Linked DNA regions of Homo sapiens: all the other regions are reported to be linked to region 1. The links are microRNA targets in miRTarBase. Many come from high-throughput screens and were not tested one by one. Region 1 holds a microRNA gene; each other region holds the end of a gene's coding sequence.

What was found. The annotated mature microRNA hsa-miR-6860 reads ACUGGGCAGGGCUGUGGUGAGU and lies in region 1 at 1,410-1,431, opposite strand. An mRNA with a match to its seed (bases 2 to 7 or 8) in the 3' UTR can be bound and repressed. Matches are read on the target gene's strand: a 7mer-m8 pairs with bases 2 to 8, a 7mer-A1 pairs with bases 2 to 7 and ends in A, and an 8mer does both.
Region 2: the mRNA of PLAC8 is a reported target of hsa-miR-6860. The part of its 3' UTR that is shown has no 7-base or 8-base seed match.
Region 3: the mRNA of SMTNL2 is a reported target of hsa-miR-6860. The part of its 3' UTR that is shown has no 7-base or 8-base seed match.
Region 4: the mRNA of OR7D2 is a reported target of hsa-miR-6860. Seed matches in the 3' UTR shown: 7mer-m8 at 1,201-1,207.

What each region holds. Positions count from the first base shown.
Region 1 is chr11:67,043,923-67,047,113 of GRCh38, reverse strand. MIR6860 (microRNA 6860) reads right to left here and starts at 1,471; the gene lies at 1,406-1,471. It overlaps SYT12 (synaptotagmin 12), which reads right to left. Exons shown (of 8, transcript NM_177963.4): 6 at 2,401-2,521; 7 at 1,237-1,370. RefSeq lists enhancers at 709-788, 889-1,018.
Region 2 is chr4:83,091,887-83,095,075 of GRCh38, forward strand. PLAC8 (placenta associated 8) reads right to left here. Exons shown (of 5, transcript NM_016619.3): 4 at 2,792-2,905. The coding sequence ends at 2,801. Among named protein-coding and RNA genes, the nearest start is that of PLAC8, 21 kb to the right of the region's middle.
Region 3 is chr17:4,607,150-4,610,149 of GRCh38, forward strand. It overlaps SMTNL2 (smoothelin like 2), which reads left to right. Exons shown (of 8, transcript NM_001114974.2): 8 at 212-1,170. The coding sequence ends at 338. Among named protein-coding and RNA genes, the nearest start is that of LINC01996, 1.8 kb to the right of the region's middle.
Region 4 is chr19:9,186,337-9,189,336 of GRCh38, reverse strand. It overlaps OR7D2 (olfactory receptor family 7 subfamily D member 2), which reads right to left. Exons shown (of 3, transcript NM_175883.4): 3 at 519-3,000. The coding sequence ends at 2,617. Among named protein-coding and RNA genes, the nearest start is that of OR7D2, 8.9 kb to the right of the region's middle.

The DNA of each region.
Region 1 (3,191 bases):
AGGTGCCTGTAATCCCAGCTACTCAGGAAGCTGAGGCAGAAGAATCATTTGAACCCAGGAGGCGGAGGTTGCAGTGAGCTGAGTTCACACCATTGCACTCCAGCTTGGGCAACAGAGTGAGACTCTGTCTCAAAAAAAAAAAAATTGGTTTCTATCTCATAGGGCTGTTTCAGGAACAAAAAGAGTGAACTGTGTAGAACGGCACCTGCGCACAGTCAGAACATGCTAGAGGTTGCGTTGCTATTACTAATATCACCACGTTGCACTCACAACCGAGGACGGGAGAGACTGCTTGAGATGAGAGCGGGAGCTGAAACTCAAACCCAGCCCGATCTCTCTCCTCCTCCACTTCCCCCATGGTCCCAAGAAGTCTCTTGCTTTTAGAGGCTGTGGAGAAGTGGCACTATGACACCCAGGGAGAGGCAGAGGACACATGGGCAGCCTGCTCCACGAGGGTGGCAGGTGAAGGCTACGATACCCAGGATGGGCCAGAGATGCTGGGGTGTGCCCGGGTTAGGAACACTCAGAGTGAGGCAGATTCTGGGCCTTTACATGCTGGCGGGGTCCCCGGGTTGGGGGAGATTAGGCGGGTTCTGTACAGCCCTGGGGCTATGGAGGCAGGTTTTGGCTCAAGGCACAAAGGACTTTCTCATTGTCAGGAGTGCCGAGGAGGGCTAGAGATAGTGAGGGAAGGTGGTGCGAGCCCCATCCTCCGAGGCATGCAAGCAGGGCCCAAGCCCTATCTTCAAGCCCCACCCGTGGTCTGTGATGTCCCTGCTGGGAGAGGTCTCCCTGGAGCATGTCACCTTCTGAAGACCACGCGAACCTGGGGAGTTCAGCAGAACCCTGAAATGGAGCTTGGGAGATTCAGAGCAGGAACTCTGGGTGCCTGGCTCACCCCAGCTCCTCTCCAACCCTCTGCAGTTCCCTCCACCAGGAATGGTCCTCCCTCAGAGCTGGGTATCCCCTCCTGCAGGAATCCCCCCTCACCTGAGGACACTCTTAGTGGATTAGGGACTCTCCTGCCTGTCCCTTGTGAGCACCGAGAAAGCCATGCCTGTGTCCCCAGCACCCACCCTAGGGCTGGCCCCAGTGGCACTCAATAACTGCTAGAAAGTGATGGCTGGAGGCAAACCACTACCCCTGCAGGGGCCCTGAGAAGAGAAGGTGGAGAGATGCGGCAGCCCCAGAGCCCTGGGGTGACCTGGCCCCTTCCCATCCCCCAGCCCCCCTCACCTGGAGCACAATGGCTGGCACCGAGAAGATCATGGCTTCGTTGAACACCGGGTTGGGGTCATCCCTCTTCACGGCTGTCTTCTTTTTGCTCATCTTCCTCCCATCCTGCAGCAGGTACACCTTGACGAAGGGGTCTGTGGGCAGGCGGACAGGTGAGGGCCAGTGTCACACTCACTCACCACAGCCCTGCCCAGTTTGGCTCCACCCACCGACTCCAAACTCCCCAATGCTTAACTGTTGCTGTGACCTCCTGCAGCCCTGCCATTGGTCCTTTATTATTTTTCCCATTTCACAGATGAGAAAACTGAGGCTCACACAGCACGTCAGGTGAGGGCTGGGCTTTGTGCTCAGGCAGCTGCCTCACAGCCCACGCGCTCCCCTCCTAGGATGCTCTGGGGAACTCAGCAGCCCCACCGTGTTCCTTCTATAAATGGCCCGAGTGCAGACGTCAGCCCTGAGTCACCGGGCACCCGCACAGCAGAGCCTGACTCAACCGTGTGCGGCTCTGAAATAACAACTTGCCGTCTGCCCATCACCTATTGCCCACGGGGTGTCCTTGCCGCACCTGCCTGGAGCTGCCCCCCCCACCTACCCCCGCCCCAAGGCTTGCAACTCCCAATAGATCAGGCTCCCCCAGCCCCTGGTCTTCAGTTCTCTAGAATACAGCTGCCTCCACGGTCACTGCTTTGAGAGGGACTGGGGACTCCTGCAGACCTAAGGCATCGGGTCCTGCCTGGCACCCACCCCAACCCCGTGGCCCTGGTCCCTTTTTGGAGTCTGGGATACTGCCCTGTCTCTGGGAATGGAGTCTCCACCATGAATTCCAGTTCCAGGGAACAGATGCCCACCTTGGTTCCCTGCCCAGTGCCCCCAGCCCTGAGTGCGGCCTCCTGCCCTGAGACCCCCGCATCACTCTGACCCCCTTCACTCTGCCCTCACAGGGGCCCCTGCCACCCTCCAGGGATCTCATGTTTCCCCGGCTGGATTAATTGTCCCCATGCCACCCCCTATCCATCTGCATGACTTCTGGGCTCAGCAAAGCTGAGGGGGACCTTGGCACTGTGTCCCACACCTGCCGATGCCTCCGGGTGCCCACAGCACAGCAGCTGGGCCACAGCTTCCACTGAGCTACGTGGAGGAGCCGGGCTGCCGGCTGGGCCTTACCCGCTGTGGTCTTGTCGTTGGTCCAGATGAGGTTCTTGGCCTTAACCACGACCACGGTGAGGCGCTCGGCTGTGGGGAGGTAGCTGAGGGAGAGCAGGATCTCCCCCACAGCATCGGCGGCCTGGGGGACAGACAGGTGGCTCAGAGGGCTTCTCCCCACCCGACTTGAGGGGTCCAGGGAAAGCCTTGGTTGCCAGGGAAAGGCTGGGGCTTCCTTCTCCATAGAGAAGTGGCTGCACTGGGGGCCCCTTACCACAGGGCTCCAGGCAGGCAGGGACAGCCTGGAGAAAGGGACAGCCACCCACCCCCCGCCACTGCATGGAGCATGCCCCACTCCTCCCTTCCACCGGGAGGGTCCTGCCTGGGGCGGAGGGTCAGAGGCGGCCTGTCAAATGTAGCTATCAAATGTAGTTTCGTTCCCTCATTGCAGGCCAAGGAAAACACTGCGGTAGTAATACACAGCGATCAGAGTGGAATGGAATTAGATTCTTTGATTAAACAACAATGATGTTCTGTGAGCATTCCTACAATTATAAAACTAAAGTGCAGCTTGGTGTCTGTCTGAAATCATCCCCTCTAAGGCTAGAGGAATGTTTCTCTAGCAGAAGCTCAGTAGGGGTAGAACCTCTGAAGCTTTGGTGGCAAAGCAGCAGACGAGCTGTAAACAGTGGTCGGGATGTTTTTGAAATTTGCCTGCAGCAAGCAGTTTCCTCGGATGTGGCTCAGGTCTTCTTCTCTGCTCTCCTAATGATGATGGGGCTCAGGCTATTGCAGAGGATGATGAGGATGAT
Region 2 (3,189 bases), not on the chromosome of region 1:
ATAGATATTTTATACTTTGGGTTATAATCTAACACGACCTTATTTTGTTCCTCAAAGTGCCCCAGTTTGGACTATGGGGAGCTTTTCCAGTGGATTCCTATGTCCTTCATCTCAATCTATTTTAACGTAAATCATGTTGTTATTCCTTGCTCTTTCTCTCTTGTTTAGCTCCCCATTTCGATATCTGTTTGTCTAAAGTTTTATTGCCAGTGAGTGATGTAGGGTCCAAGTTGATGAGGAGGAGTCAGGACCGCCAAGGTATTTTACTTCAAACCCACCTAAAGATTCAGTGAGATATTTTCCCTGAGGTTAAAGAAAACACTTGAGCTATCAGGACTCATTACTATGAATGTGTGGGTAGATATTTGATCCAAATTGTTTCATGTATTTATTTAAGTAAACAGTGTTGGAATGATCTAACTCCCCATCTTTGCTTCTGGCCTCATCCTGTACAATCTGTACTATATACTATTATTAGATTAATATTTATTATTTTAAAATTTTATTTATTTTTATTTTTACTTTTTAGTAGAGATGAGGTCTTGCTATGTTGCCCAGGCTGGTCGCTGGTGCTGAACTCCTGAGCTCAAGTGATCCTCCCACCTCGGTCTCCCAAAGTGTTGGGATTATAGGCATGAGCCACCATGCCCAGCCTTAGATTCATATTTCTAAAGAGTAGTTCTATTCATTTACTTCAAGCCTGCAATAATTTCCCAATTCCTACCAAGTCATTAGCTTAGTATTCAGACATCGCATGCTAAGGCCTTTAAAATCTTTTATTTTTCGTTATTTTTCTACTTATGCCATATGTTCTAGCCAAGTTGGACCTAAGCTCATAAAGATATTTTCTCTGTTTTTGCCTCTCTAGTTTCATTAATATTGCTGATTAGAAGCAACATTTCATTTCTTTTCTTTTTCTTTTCCTTTTTTTTTTTTTTTTTTTTTTTGAGACAGGGCTGGAGTGCAGTGGTGTGATCATAGCTCACTGCAGCTTCTACCTCCCAGGCTCAAGTGATCCTCCCACCTCAGCCTCCCAAGTATCTGGGACTACAGGCGTGCACCACCACACCTAGCTAATTTTTGTATTTTTTCAAGAGACAGGGTTTCAACATGTTCCCCAGGCTGGTCTTGAACTCCTGGGTTCAAGCAGTCCTCTTGCCTTGGCCTCCCAAAGTGCTGGGATCACAGGTGTGAGCCACTGCACTCAGCCTCCATTTCTATTAATTAAAACCACATCTTGAGTCAGTGATCCTCTGTTTGCCCCTATCTGATTTACTTACTCCCTTGACCATCCTGCTGTGTGCCCTGGGAAGCGACCTGCGGACTACCGTGACACTTTGCTGCCCTCTGCCTTTCTGGTGGGTTCAGCCAATGGGAAAACCAGAAGGACATCCGAAAGTGAGGTCAGGGTACTTTTTCAGTTCTATGGGTTGCCTCGGGCTGCTCACAACCCTCTCTTGAGAGGATACTGTTTCTTTCAGGGCAGGCCTCTTCACACAGCTCTCTCCTTAAGGATTCAGGTCACTGCTCCCTCTTCTCCTCCCTGGGGCTGTTGCCAGGCAGGTTATTATGCCATCCCTTGTCATCTCCCTACAATGCCCCACCCACACCTTTATAATTAGTCTTCATTAAATCTTTGAACTATCACAGTTTGAGTGCCATCTGTTTCTTGTTGAGAACTAATACGCACTTCCCCTTTAGAATTAAAAATCACTGCTTTCAAGAAACTTTCACCTATACATCTTACAAGATGTGATCTTTTCCTCCTCTGAACATAAAATACCGCTTTGTCTATAGGCATTAATTGAATTCTGCATTTTAGTTAGGGGTTTGTCTAATCCCCCTTTTTCGTATAAATTCTATAATGACAGAGGGACTAGCTTATTTATCTTGCTCCCCAACCCTACTACAATACCTAACAGTATCTTACCTAGTCTTAGATATTGATACATTGATACATTAGTTGCTAAGATAATATATACTTGATCCTAGATCCTTAATACATTACTTGCTAAGTAAATGAACATTTTTTTACGTATCTCCCAAGAGTTATTTTTATTAACCCATACAGAGTCCTTATCACTTCAGGAAGGAAACTGGATATTACAAAGAGTAGAAAAATTGTGTTCTTCCCATACTTAATATATATTCTACAGGGGATGGAGTAAGTCATGTTGATTTCTACTTAACTACATCCTCAATAGATAGTCCTGAGAAAAATTAGTTGAAAATGACTTGATTGAATTTCAGATGGTTAATTCTATATAACATTTCCAAACATTCTAAATTCTATGTTCACCTCTTTCAAAGTTCAGCTTCTCCAACAGGAGTTTTCTATTTAACCTCACCTTGCTATGATAGATGCTTTATGCCACAATCAATCCAAATATCATACAGAATGTTATTTTCTTTACTCTTCTATTTTATAATTATTTACGAATTCCTTTTGTCAACTTGTTTGTCTTAGCAGGGAACATGTTTTCTAATTCTTTTGTATCTCACCATACTCTGGTATTTTACAAGTGGTAAGTGCTTCCTTAATAGATCACCAGAATTCTGAGAAGTTTAGAAAATTCACCATTCCTTTATTTACTAAAATATGGTTTCAAAGTATAGAGCTATCTTCTTCATAAGAAGAAAATTAAAGCCAATCTTGATATTATGATAGCACTTCAGGAGACTTAAGAAATAGTTATTGCTGAATTATTCAAAACAACAAATAATTGACAAAGTCTTTAGTGATATTTCTAAAAACCCACATGTTCTGAGAGGCATGTTTGCATTGACTCACCATCAGTTTTTAGAAAGTACGCATGGCTCTCCTTCTGTTGATATCTCTCTTGATTTGGCAAAGAGTACAATGAGGACAGCAAAGAGTTGCCATATAGTCATCACAAATAGATCCCTGTTTGAAAACCAAAAAGAAATAAAAATATAAAATTCACCTATTTGGAATTAAGACTTGCCACATCTTGAAGAGAAGCAGAAGGCACTGATCTTTCAGATTCAGAGTTTGGATGGATACATTTAGGAAAATATTACCTCACTTTTTCACATAAATGTTGTCTCATTTTATGACGGAAAATATTTTTCTATACTTTACGTTTCTGAAAATGTAAGGAGATGTCCAACCAAACTATCAAGTATGAGAGTTAAATATCCTTGGGAAGTAGAATTTCAAAACTCTTT
Region 3 (3,000 bases), not on the chromosome of region 1:
CTCATAAATCTGGGAGTTTGGGAAACATTGTATTGGAGTCAGTGACTCCAAGGGTTCTGCCAGGGTTATCTGAATTCCCCGCTGGTGGGTCCTTGGGAACCTCTGGCTGCCGGCTGAGCTCTGTTCCCGGGACCGAGACACCGGCCCTGTCGCGGCTGTGGGGCTGGCTGATGGCTGGGACCACCGTTCTGACGGGGCTTGTGTGTTTCAGGAATCTGGCCAACTGTGAGCGCCTCATCGAAGTGGAGGACATGATGGTGATGGGCCGCAAGCCGGACCCCATGTGTGTCTTCACCTACGTCCAGTCGCTGTACAACCACCTGCGTCGCTTCGAGTAAAGCCCCTGAGCCTGGATTGCCAAAGAGCAGCCCCAGGAAGAGGCCGGGGGTCCGCTTGCGATTCCCCAGCCAGGATGCCCCCAGGAGCCTTGCCGTTTGGTGTGAGCGCGCTGTTTGTTCTGTGGCATGTGACGGCACTCCCCTTCGAGCCCAGCTGTGTTACTGATTAAAAGTACTGCTGAGCTGTGGTCCGACAGCACTGATCACAGCCAAGGGCTTGGAGGAAAAGGAAAAATTATGAGAGAGAGAGAGACATTGGTGCTAAGTAATGATCTTCCTAAAGAAATGCTTGTGTTTATAGCTTCCAGAATGCTAATCTACAATTTTCCCTCTGGTGAATTCGATACATCGGCTTTACAGGGTTACAGTGATTACCAAGTGTTTTTTTTTATCAAAATACCCAGAGTTTTTTACTTCCTCACGCGATTGTAGGTTCCTCTCCTCCCTCCCTCTGGGCCACTGCCAGGAAACAGAGAGACCGCTTAATCAGCAGCTTGACAAAGAAGACCTCAAGTCTTGGGAAGAAACAGTTTAATCACTCCCAAGTCCTGGGCAACAGATGACCTTCAAGTCACCTCCGCTCTCCGGGGAGATGGGAAGGCTCTCCTCTCGGTCCCAAAGTCCTCCTGTTCTTCCCAGGAGGCCCCACAAGTGTTTGGCTAAGCACAGGCTCTCGGGAATTTAACACTTTTGGGGAAGGAATAGGCCCTTTGTGCTGAGAGAGAGTTTTTATTCACATCTTTTTTAGGGGATTTGCTGCAGATATTTATAAAAAGTAACTCCCTCTGTACCACTGACCCATTTATACATAAAAAAGATGTGTTGAATTTTGCTTGGGGTTTGTCATTTCTGTTTAGGAGATGGGAGTTCTGTGAATAAGAGACTTTGCACACCTTCCAAGTGAATATCCACTACATTCCACCCCTGTTCCTGCACTTAAATCACTGGCCTGGAAAGCTGAAGATGGCATTTGCTGTCATCTCTGATCATCTCTGAGTGTGCCTGTCTCCCATCTCCATGTTGTGGAAGGAGCGTCAACAGAAAGTTCCCCTTGAGATCCGTCCTCTGGATGTAGACCGCAGTGTTTGTGATAAACAGTGGCCCAAGACAGCAGGGTTTGGGGTGGTCCCGCACTTGGAGGAAGCCCATCAAGGAACGTTGGTTTATTTTCACAGCTGTTTGGTGGTAGGACTTTCATAGAAAAATCTTGAGATTCTATAGAGCTCCAGCCATTAGCTTATTCTCAGCCAAGAATCATTGTATAATTGGGTTGGATTTTAGCCATGCACTTCTAAACCTTCCCTTTAAGGAGCGGATCTGTGTCTTCACCTCATGCAGCCGGCTCTCAACACCAGTGCCTGTGTGCCTTTGTGGGGTCCCACGTGTCCCTTGGGTGGTATATTGGGGGGTGGGCAGGAGATCCCTGGGGGTGTCAGGAGGAACATGGCAGAGCCTGCAGGTGGGTGAGCAGTATTCTCCATGGATTGGTTGGTCCAGGCTGCAGTCTTGCCCTCTCTCTCGGATTCTCCCACTCTGGAAACCATTCCCTTGCTAGCTCTCTCGTCTCTTGTACGCTTGGGGAGGTGAGACCTATTATTAACAGGACACATAACTGAAGGTTAGGGTTTCAAACCTGAAGCCAATCTGGGAACACAAGGGCTCTGTAAAAAGCATGGCTATATGTTACTGAGTCCTCGCACACGTTAAATGGAGCTCTCCCGAGTTGCAGACATGGCCGTACGCTCTGCGCATGAAACAGAGCAGATCCTGCCAGAATGCAGAACAATTTCTTTTAAACTTTAGGAATGGTGTCCCTCATGTCTCACATTCAGAATGAGACAGACTCGAGTTTTTAAAGTTGGTTCCATGATGTTCTTGTCTGTGGTCTTTGTTGGGGGTGGGGGGTGAGAGATCATAAGACAGTTTGTGAGTTTCAAACATGATTTTACCTCTAAGACAAAGCATGAGAAGAAAATCCAGGAAGGTCTCACAATCCTAAGATATTTGGAAACCACCGTTTTAGGTCGGGGTTACGTGAATGTTCCCCATTTGTGAGACCCAATTTCATCTTGCTTTCTACCCTGGTATGGAGGAATTCACATCTTTTTTCCCCTTTCCCGAGAGAATTATTTCTTGGAGCTGCTCATAAGAGTCTTCTGTTTTTCCAGATAGATTCCTTCACCTGGATTTTGTTAAACTTATTAAGTCGGACCAAATTGGCTTGTGTGTTTCCCTGAAGTGAACGTTTCACCAGAGCCACGATGGGTTTTAGCTTTTCTGATAGCTGATGGATATTTTTCAAGGCAAGCGAGAGCCTATAAGCACTTTCTGAATATGACAGAGCACATGCTGGTGAGAGGAGACCGCACAGGCCAGGTGTTTGGGGAACAGTTTGTTAAAGCCAATGAATTTCGCAAATGTGCTAGATGATGAAGAGTTCTCAGCTTTCCCGGTTGCAGTGATCAGAACTCTGTAACTGGAGACCGGTGTGAGAGAAGATTTTATTCTCTGCCATCATGACCGGGTCTATACGACTGCAGGCAATTGCACAGAAGACTAGAAATGCTGATTCAGTTGGTCAGTTTGGGGTGGGACATCTTACCAGTCCAGCAGAACCAACTCTGGCTTGGGTTTTTCTAGCTGGTGACAGGTGACCAACTCA
Region 4 (3,000 bases), not on the chromosome of region 1:
GGGGTTTTTATAGGCATAGCATGGGGTTGGGCAGGGTCAGGGGTGGTTTAGGAAAAGGTGATATCCAAGCGAGAAAACAGGGATATAAGTTCTCACTTTGGGCTGCAGTTTCAGGCTTTTTGGCTTGAGGGTGGGGTTTTGCCTGGGAACTGCCCTTTTCTGCCTAGAATTTCTCCACCCTCTGTCCCTATCACCCTCAAGGCCCCACGCTTCCTGGGGTAATAGGGCCTGGTTATTTCTACACAATGTGAGAATTCTCCAAAGAGCAGCCCTAGCTTTAGAGCTCCCCATAGAGTTGGCAGAAACTTTCTCAGATCTGCATAAACATCTCTTATGGACTAAATTGCACCCCCCAAAATTAATATAGTGAAGTCCTCACCCCCAATATGATGACTGTCTTTAGATACAGGGTCCTCAGGGAGGTAATTAAAGTTTACTGAAATCATAAGGGTCAGGCCCTGATCTAATAGGACTGATATTCTTAGAAGAAGAAGAGACACCAGAGAGATATAACCAGCTATATTTAAATACGTATTTTAATCATACTTCATCCAGTAGGAAAACAAATAAACACTGTTGATCTGTTCATGATCGAACACACAAACAACAAAAACCCACATGCAAACACATAGAAATAAAGTCAGTGAACAATCAATAGCTTAAGAACTCTGTGCCACCACTTGAGATAACAAAGCTATAGCAAATGCTTCAAACCCAAGTTCAGAACTCACTAATGGAGAATTAAGAACGATGATCAAGGACACAATTTTTGAATAGCACATAGGACAGAAGTGCCATCAAGGAAATTACTTGGAGATTAATTGTTAACTTACACCCCCATGTTTATCACGGCACTATTCACATTAGCAAAGATATGGAATCAACCTACGTGTCCATCAATGGAGGACTGGACTTTTTTTAAAGTGGTATCTTAAAGAACTAGAAGGCCAGGCACAGTGGCTCACACCTGTAATCCCAGCACTTTGGGAGGCCGAGGTGGGCGTATCACCTGAGGTCAGGAGTTCAAGACCAGCCTGGCCAACATGGTGAAACCCTGTCTCTACTAAAAATAGAAGAATTAGCTGGGTGGGGTGGCAGGTGCCTGTAGTCCCAGCTACTCAGGAGGTTGAGGCAGGAGAATCGCTTGAACCTGGGAGGTGGAGGTTGCAGTGAGATGAGATCGCGCCACTGCACTCCAGCCTGGGCAACAGAGTGAGACTCTGTCTTAAAAAAAAAACAAAAAAAAGAACTAAAAGTAGAACTACCTTTCAGTCCAGCAGTTCCACTACTGGGTATCTACCCAAAGGAAACAAAGTCATTATGTGAAAAAGACACATACACCTGCATGTTTATAGCAACATAATTAGCAATTACAAAGGCATGGAACCAACCTAAGTGCCCATCAACCAATGAGTGATAAAGATTGTGGTATATGTACAGCATGGAATACTACTTATCCATAAAAAGGAACCAAATAATGTCTTTTGTAGCAACTTGGATGGAACTGGAGGTCATTACTCTAGGTGAAGTAACTCAGGAATGAAAAACCTGGACTTGTTTGTATGTTCAACCAACATACATAAGATCCATATGAACATATCGTATGTTCTCAGTTATAAGTGGGAGCTAAGCTATGAGGACACAAAGGGATATGAACAATATAATGAACTTTGGTGACTTGAAGGGAGAAAGGTTGGGAGGGGGGTGAGGAATAAGAGACTACTACCACTTGGGTGACGGGTACACTAAAAACTCAGAAGTCACCACTAAAGAACTCATCCGTGTAATGAAAAACCACATGTACCCCAAAAACTACTGACATAAAAATAAATTTTTTTAAAAAAAGAAAACATGGTATGTATCTACATATGTCTATATCTATATAGATATCGAGGATATATACAATGGAGTACTACTCAGCCATAAAAAAGGATGAAATCATGTCTTTTGCAGCAACATCGATGGGACTGGAAGCCATTCTCTTAAGTAAGGTAGTAAAGAAACAAAGTCAAATGCTGCATGATCTCACTTATAATTGGGAGCTAAACAATGTATACGCATGGGCATTATAACAGAATAATGGACACTGGAGACTGCAAAAGGTGAGAGGGGAGTGAGAGTTTAAAAACTGCCTTGGCCGGGCGTGGTGGCTCACACCTGTAATCCCAGCACTTTGAGAGGCCAAGGCAGGTGGATCACAAGGTCAGGAGTTCGAGACCAGCCTGGCCAAGATGGTGAAACCCCGTCTCTACTAAAAGGCATGGGTGGCACACACCTGTAATCTCAGCTACTCAGGAGGCTGAGACAGAAGAATCACTTGAACCCGGGAGGCGGAGGTTGCAGTGAGCCGAGATCACTCCACTGCACTCCAGCCTGGGAGACAGAGTGAGACTCCGTCTCAAAAAAGAAAAAAAAGTGCCTTATGTTCACTATTCAGGTAATTGGTACGCCAAAAGCTCAGACTTCACCCTTATGCAAATGCATGTTAAGAAATCTGCATTTGTACTCTCAAAGTATAAAAAAATGTTTTTAATTTTAAAGAGTAAGAATTTCAAAATAAAACATTTTTGCCATTGGTGCTCACAAAACTTCTTAGTCCTGGGGCCAAGGGATCCATCACAAACAAGAGGCTGCCCTGCTGAGGAGACTCCCCAGGGCTCCCTTCACATCCTTGTTCCTCAGGCTGTAGATGAAGGGGTTCAACATGGGGGTGACCACAGTGTACATCACCGAGGCCACGGAGATTTTCTGGGAAGAGTGAGTCACCGCAGAAGTGAAGTGGACCCCAATGCCTGTCCCATAAAATAAAGAAACGACGGAGAGGTGAGACCCACAGGTGGAAAGTGCTTTTTGTTTTCCCCCAGATGAGGACATCTTCCTTATGGATGAAGCAATTCGTGAATAAGAGAAAATGATCCCAAGGAGGGGAAAAACGCCCAGCACACCCGTCATAAAGTATATCAACGTGCTGTTCAGGAAGGTATCAGAGCAGGCCAGCTG